2 separate regions of the Homo sapiens genome follow, and region 1 is linked to region 2. The links come from fine-mapping of genetic effects on gene expression. A gene starts in region 2. The other region holds a variant in brackets. All regions are shown on one strand. Distances are between the middles of the regions. Region 1 overlaps ARHGEF38 (Rho guanine nucleotide exchange factor 38). Region 2 holds the start of ARHGEF38 (Rho guanine nucleotide exchange factor 38).

What was found.
Region 1: its variant is fine-mapped to the expression of ARHGEF38 in thyroid (GTEx, PIP above 0.99).

The regions. Positions count from the first base shown.
Region 1 is chr4:105,584,913-105,587,833 of GRCh38, forward strand. The region is part of intron 1 of ARHGEF38 (Rho guanine nucleotide exchange factor 38); the gene reads left to right. Among named protein-coding and RNA genes, the nearest start is that of ARHGEF38-IT1, 25 kb to the left of the region's middle. The variant C/T (reference allele first, on the strand shown) is at 1,467.
Region 2 is chr4:105,550,907-105,553,827 of GRCh38, forward strand. It overlaps ARHGEF38 (Rho guanine nucleotide exchange factor 38), which reads left to right and starts at 1,714. Exons shown (of 14, transcript NM_001242729.2): 1 at 1,714-2,055. The coding sequence starts at 1,860. LOC105377352 (a long non-coding RNA gene) reads right to left here and starts at 1,378. Exons shown (of 5, transcript NR_188418.1): 1 at 1,287-1,378.

The DNA of each region.
Region 1 (2,921 bases), 34 kb after region 2:
TCTAAGAGATCGAGGTTCTCCCCACGCATATACCCAAGCCAGATAAACTGCTCAGGATTCTAAACCCCAGCTTTGTTCTGACTTTCCTCCGAAAGCAGCATCCCTATTTTTTTTCCTCTTCCTCTTCCAACTGAACTAGCTGTCCACCCACTTTAGAGTCATGCATTTTTCTTGACAAGTTGGTAACCACAAAATAATGGGATAATTGTTTGCTCTAGATGGTGGAAGAGTTTGAGACTGTAGAGAAAGTAACCCTATTTTTCCCATTCCCACAGAAATAGTTAACATTTGTATTGTTTTAAAGATCTCAAGGAGCTTCCACATGGAGCTGCTCATTTAATTCAGTCTTCATGATCACACTGTGATGGTTTTCATGCATAGTTTACAGGTAAGGAAACCAAGGCTCTGTGAGGATAACTATTAGTTATTAGTCTACTGTGTTCTCACAGCTGAGTGGCAGAGCTGATCTCAAGTCAGATTATCCTTTTCCCAAACTGCAACAACCTCTTTTTATATAAACTTCCTTGGCCAGGAATCTCCACATATATTATTAATGAATTTTGTGGCTAGAATAGTAAAAATTCACATCACCACTGGAAAAATAAAGCTTGAGTGTGAAAGAAATACAGAGTGAAGTCAATTACATGGTACTGCTTTAATATACAGCTGCATATTTCTGTTATAGCAATCTGAATATCCTTTTAACCTTAGTTTCACTTTGGCTTTGACATTGTATTTTATTATATGCAAACTATTGGGAAACATTTATTCTTAAAACAATTTTTCCTTCTTTCCTAAATAGCCCCTCCGTTGCTTTTTTTTTTTTTTTTTTTTTTTGAGATGGAGTCTCCTTCTGTCACCCAGGCTGAAGTGCAATGGCACTATCTCGGCTCACTGCAATCTCCGCCTGGTGGGTTCAAGTGATTCTCCTGCCTTAGCCTCCCAAGTAGCTGGGATTACAGGCATGTGCCACCACACCCGGCTAATGTTGTATTTTTAGTAGAGATGGCGTTTCTCCATGTTGGTCAGGCCGGTATGAAACTCCTAACCTCAGGTGATCCACCCACCTCGGCCTCCCAAAGTGTTGGGATTACAGGCATGAGCCACTGCGCCAGGCCCCCTCGGTTGCTTCATCCAGAAATAAAAGACGGGCTATAGCTGACTGCTGATTTGGGCGATATGTGTTGGCAATATTGTTGAGTTCCAAATACTTTTATATATAAAAGCTAAGTATAACTAAAAGATAAAATGTTTAAATGCAGAGAAAGATCTTACAAAAACAAAATGTGTCCACAATGCATTGCAGAGTTTGTTGGTTTAAGAAATGCAAACATAGAAAGTGTTTAGAAACCTGACCATAAAATGATGCAAGTGAAGTTTTTGTTCCTACAATAAACTTGAGTCAAAAGAGCAAACAAAGATATCTCATAAGGTTGCTCAACTGTAAATTCTCTGAGAGATTTTTA[C/T]ACCTGAGGGAGAAGTTGAGTATTTTCACTGACACTTTATTTCACCCACCTTGCCCCCACAAATTTGTTCTCAACAAGTTGTTGAGCAGTATTGGAAAACCTAAGCATTTTTTAATTGACAAAATCTGATGTAGTACATTTTAAAGTGCAGCAACTGAAACGTCTGTGAAGCAGGTTAAGTTAACATTGTGATTGAGTCCTGGAATTTAGAACTAAAAGGAACCCAAATGCATGTTTTAGGGATATTCCTTTGTCGACGATCAGGAAAAACTTCCTTCTCCTTGCTAGGATCCCAAATAATTCATAGATTAATTTTATAAGGCATAGAAGGTTTAGAACCTGGAAAAGCAATGTCAGAGCAGTTTTTCATCAGCATCATTTTTATTTTCAAGGAAACATTAAGTGATAATTGGGCAGTGTCCATACTGGTTTGTCAGCTCTCTTACGCATGAGATTTCCTCCTGTGCTCTATTTCACATACTCCAGGAGTAAAGGACGTCCCTCACACCTCTCTGCCCTCAGTCTCCCCCACCCCCACCCAATCATTTCACTATGTATAATACATCAAAATATTATGTTGTACATCTTGAATATACACATTTTTAAAAAGAAAGGGCCACAATGCAGCCTCCTCACTGCAGCTCCTCTCATAAGGTGTCCTGTCTTCCTCTTTCATATCCAAAATAATTCATTGTAATGACACGTGATTGTAACTTGCTTTTTCAAATCTGGGGCACTGAGAGGCAGGCTGCTTCTACTTTCCAATGCAAATATTACAAATTAGGCTGGTGCAGTGGCTCACACTTGTAATCCCAGTGCTTCGGGAAGCTCAGGTGGGAGGATTGCTTGAGCCCAGGAGTTTGAGGCTGCAGTGAGCTGCAATTGCACCACTGCATTCCAGCCTGGTTGACAAAGTGAGAACCTGTTTCTGAAAACAAAAAACAAAAAAACAAATTAGCAAGCACCCCCAAATTCTCATAATATAGATCAGGATTGGAGGGCTACAGGATATCTCATGCATTCATTCTCTCTCCTTGAATAGATTATCTGTTCTTATATAGCTCATGTGGATTATGATTTATGATTATGATTATTATTTTGAGACAGAGTCTCATTCTCTCGCCCAGGCTGGAGTGCAGTGGCACGATCTCGGCTCACTGCAAGCTCCACCTCCCGGGTTCATGACATTCTCCTGCCTCAGCCTTCAAAGTAGCTGGGACTACAGGAGTCCGCCACCACGCCCGGCTCTTTTGTTGTATTTTTAGTAGAGATGGGGTTTCACCGTGTTAGCCAGGATGATCTCGATCTCCTGACCTTGTGATCTGCCTGCCTCGGCCTCCCAAAGTGCTAGGATTACAGGTGTGAGCCACTGCTCCCGGCCTCATGTGGATTATTTCCTTAGCACTAAATAGCCCAAATCTCATAAAACCATGTGGTTTTGGATGCTATTTGTCA
Region 2 (2,921 bases):
AGATAAAGGGTTATATTTGCTGTAGTATTTATGCATTTCTTAAGCATTTATCATGTGTAAATTCTTGCTACCATTTTTATTAGGTCTTGATCTGATTTTTATGGTCCATTGACAAAGTTTCTGAGTGCTCTGTCCTAAACCTCATGTTACCCATTAAGTCCTGTAGTTTTAATTGAACTTTTTTTTTCAGTGATACCGTATCTAAATAAATCCCTGGTGGTTACCAGGTGAATATAAATAAGTGTGTATATGCATACATACATTCATACATATATAATATTCGAACACAATTGAGGCATTTTGACATAAATCCAAAAAATTCCTTTTATATTTTAGAGGTAAATAAGCCTTTAAAAGTATTTATTAAATGTACTTGGGAGGATTTATTCAAAAAAGACTATCAATTATATTAAATAAAAGCCATTCAATACGCCAAGCTATATATAGATGTCTCCATAGTGGGTGAAGATGTGTCATTTATCTTTTAAGATAATTATGCAAACTATATTGAGCACACACATCCTGAGCTGGGAAATGACTTTTACATCTTTCTCCTCATTTATAAATCTTTTCCAACAGAAGTTATGCAAGATTCAGACTGGTCAGCACAGAGCTGGATTTTGGTGGTCCCTTTACAATAGGAGAGAATCCATTTTCCTCCTTAGGGTCTTTCTTTTCTTTAACGAAGGCATACAGAGCACTCAGCACATTCCCAGAGCTTCTTAGAATTTTTCCCTTGAGAGATCTCAGGAAATATGAGGAAAAACAACTTCAAAAAAATTAATGAAAGGCCTATCACTGTCTGCCTTTCTCTCTTTTAATCCCTGCCCTATCCTTTCTACTTTCTAGAAGTGTAGTGCCCCTTCAGTTTCAAACATTTTTCCTCTCCTTAAATTCCCAAGGTGGGATGCCCTTTTCTGGCACTCCGTCTATGAAAGGGACAGGGAAAAGATCTTATAGAAACTGAACCCTGACACGGGGCTTATTTTCCTAAGGACCAAAACATAAAAGGACAGGGTGGGACCATGGAAGGATTAATTTCAGGCAAGGGCAGCCTGTGGAGAGTGAGAAATCTGAAAAGGCTCTAGGCTTCTATGGGCATTCCCCTCCACTTCTTCTGCCTGCTGCCAGATGACTCTCACATGTGAATCCTTATTTCCTCAGGAATGCGGATCAGGGTTTGGCAAGTATGTTTTCAGTAAATAATTGCTGAATGTTCAACGCTTAAAGGCAGAAGCATAACTTTGAGTGTGCACAGTAATCACTGAAAATGATTCTGTACTCACCGTTTTGATGCAAATGCAAATTCTCATAGCCCCTGCACTGACTCCGTGGGTCACCTGTGAGTAACTCTAGCCAAAAGCCACGCACAAGCCCTGGTCTGCCTCCAGGCAGCAGACCACAACACAGTGCCCTGAGTGCACCTGCACACACCCATGGGCACACATTAAACCCATAAACGGCGGGTTATGCTAACGTGTACTTCCTTCCTCACTGCCTCACCTTGTTCATTTTCCTTTTTCCCCACCCCTCACCCCATACAATAGGATTTTTGTTTGCTTCAGTAGCATGTGACAGCACAGTCCCTGCTTTGCCTAGCTCTGTGCTGCAAGTCTCTCAGGTAACAGGTGGCAGCTTCCCCTGTTGGATTCTAGGTTTAAAAAAGAATGACCTCATGTGGGTGGAGCTCTGGGACTTCGTAGAGGTGGTGGCAGTCACAGCCAGGTAACCCTGGAGTGAAGCGGTTTAGTTAGAAGGGAGCAGATAAACTCGTCACTCTAGTAGCTTTAACCCTCACCCTGAGGCACCTTAGCAATCAGCCATTGCCTGCAAGCCTCCAAAGCTTGTCTTTGCCTAATATGGAGCCCAAAGAAGCCACTGGGAAAGAAAACATGGTCACCAAGAAAAAGAATCTGGCCTTCTTGAGGTCTAGACTCTATATGCTGGAGAGAAGGAAGACTGACACTGTGGTTGAGAGCAGTGTTTCTGGGGACCACTCTGGCACCTTGAGGAGGAGCCAATCTGACAGGACCGAATACAACCAGAAATTACAAGGTAACCAAAAAGAAATCAATTGTCCCAGTTACTGCACTCCCAGCTCCATTTCTGCTACGTTTCCAATTGCAAAGAAAACACACAAGGCAGAGGGGAAAATTGAATACCACCTCTCCTTCCCACAAAATAAGAAGATGAAAGTAAATGTGACCTATAAATTATAGGGAAAAAAATTTATTACGTGATTCAATGTTAAAGAGTCAATTCCGAATTACTCTTAATATTGCTGTGTTTTTCTTTTTTTTTTCCTGGTGAGGGTAATCATTTTTCTTCTAACTTCCTCTTTTCTTCTCCCTTCTCTACCCAACTTAAGAAGTGGGAAACACTGGAAAGCAAATGAGTTAGAAACCTACAAAAGATTGTTTATCTCAATGGGTAGATATGTGATATTACACCATGAGATATATCTAGGTAATGGTACTGAACTATGATTGTGGTTATCTTAAATAGGGGCATGAAACTATAATCGTGTCTGTGACAAAGAAGGAATGTTATAGTCAGAGAGACGGTATAAAAAGATTTGCTGAAATTCACTTAGGTGATTATTTCCTTTGAGTAAATTGAATAATACTCAAATATGGTAAGAAATGTTTAGCATGCTTATTTTGAATGACATTTGAGGAAATAACTTCAGTTTATTTTGTGATGGTACAAAGATAATTTGGCACAGTTATGATAGCACATCATTTGTTTCAGGGCCTTAATCTATATCCTGTCCTATCTATCCTTTCTTTCTCTCCTGTTTCCTGAAGGTCATTTGTTCTAGTAAAATTTCATTTTGATGTTGATATTGGGCAGCATTTTAAGTCTTTTCTTCGGTACTTGTTATGTGGTCCTCCAGAACTTGCCTCTCCTGCTTTTAGCAC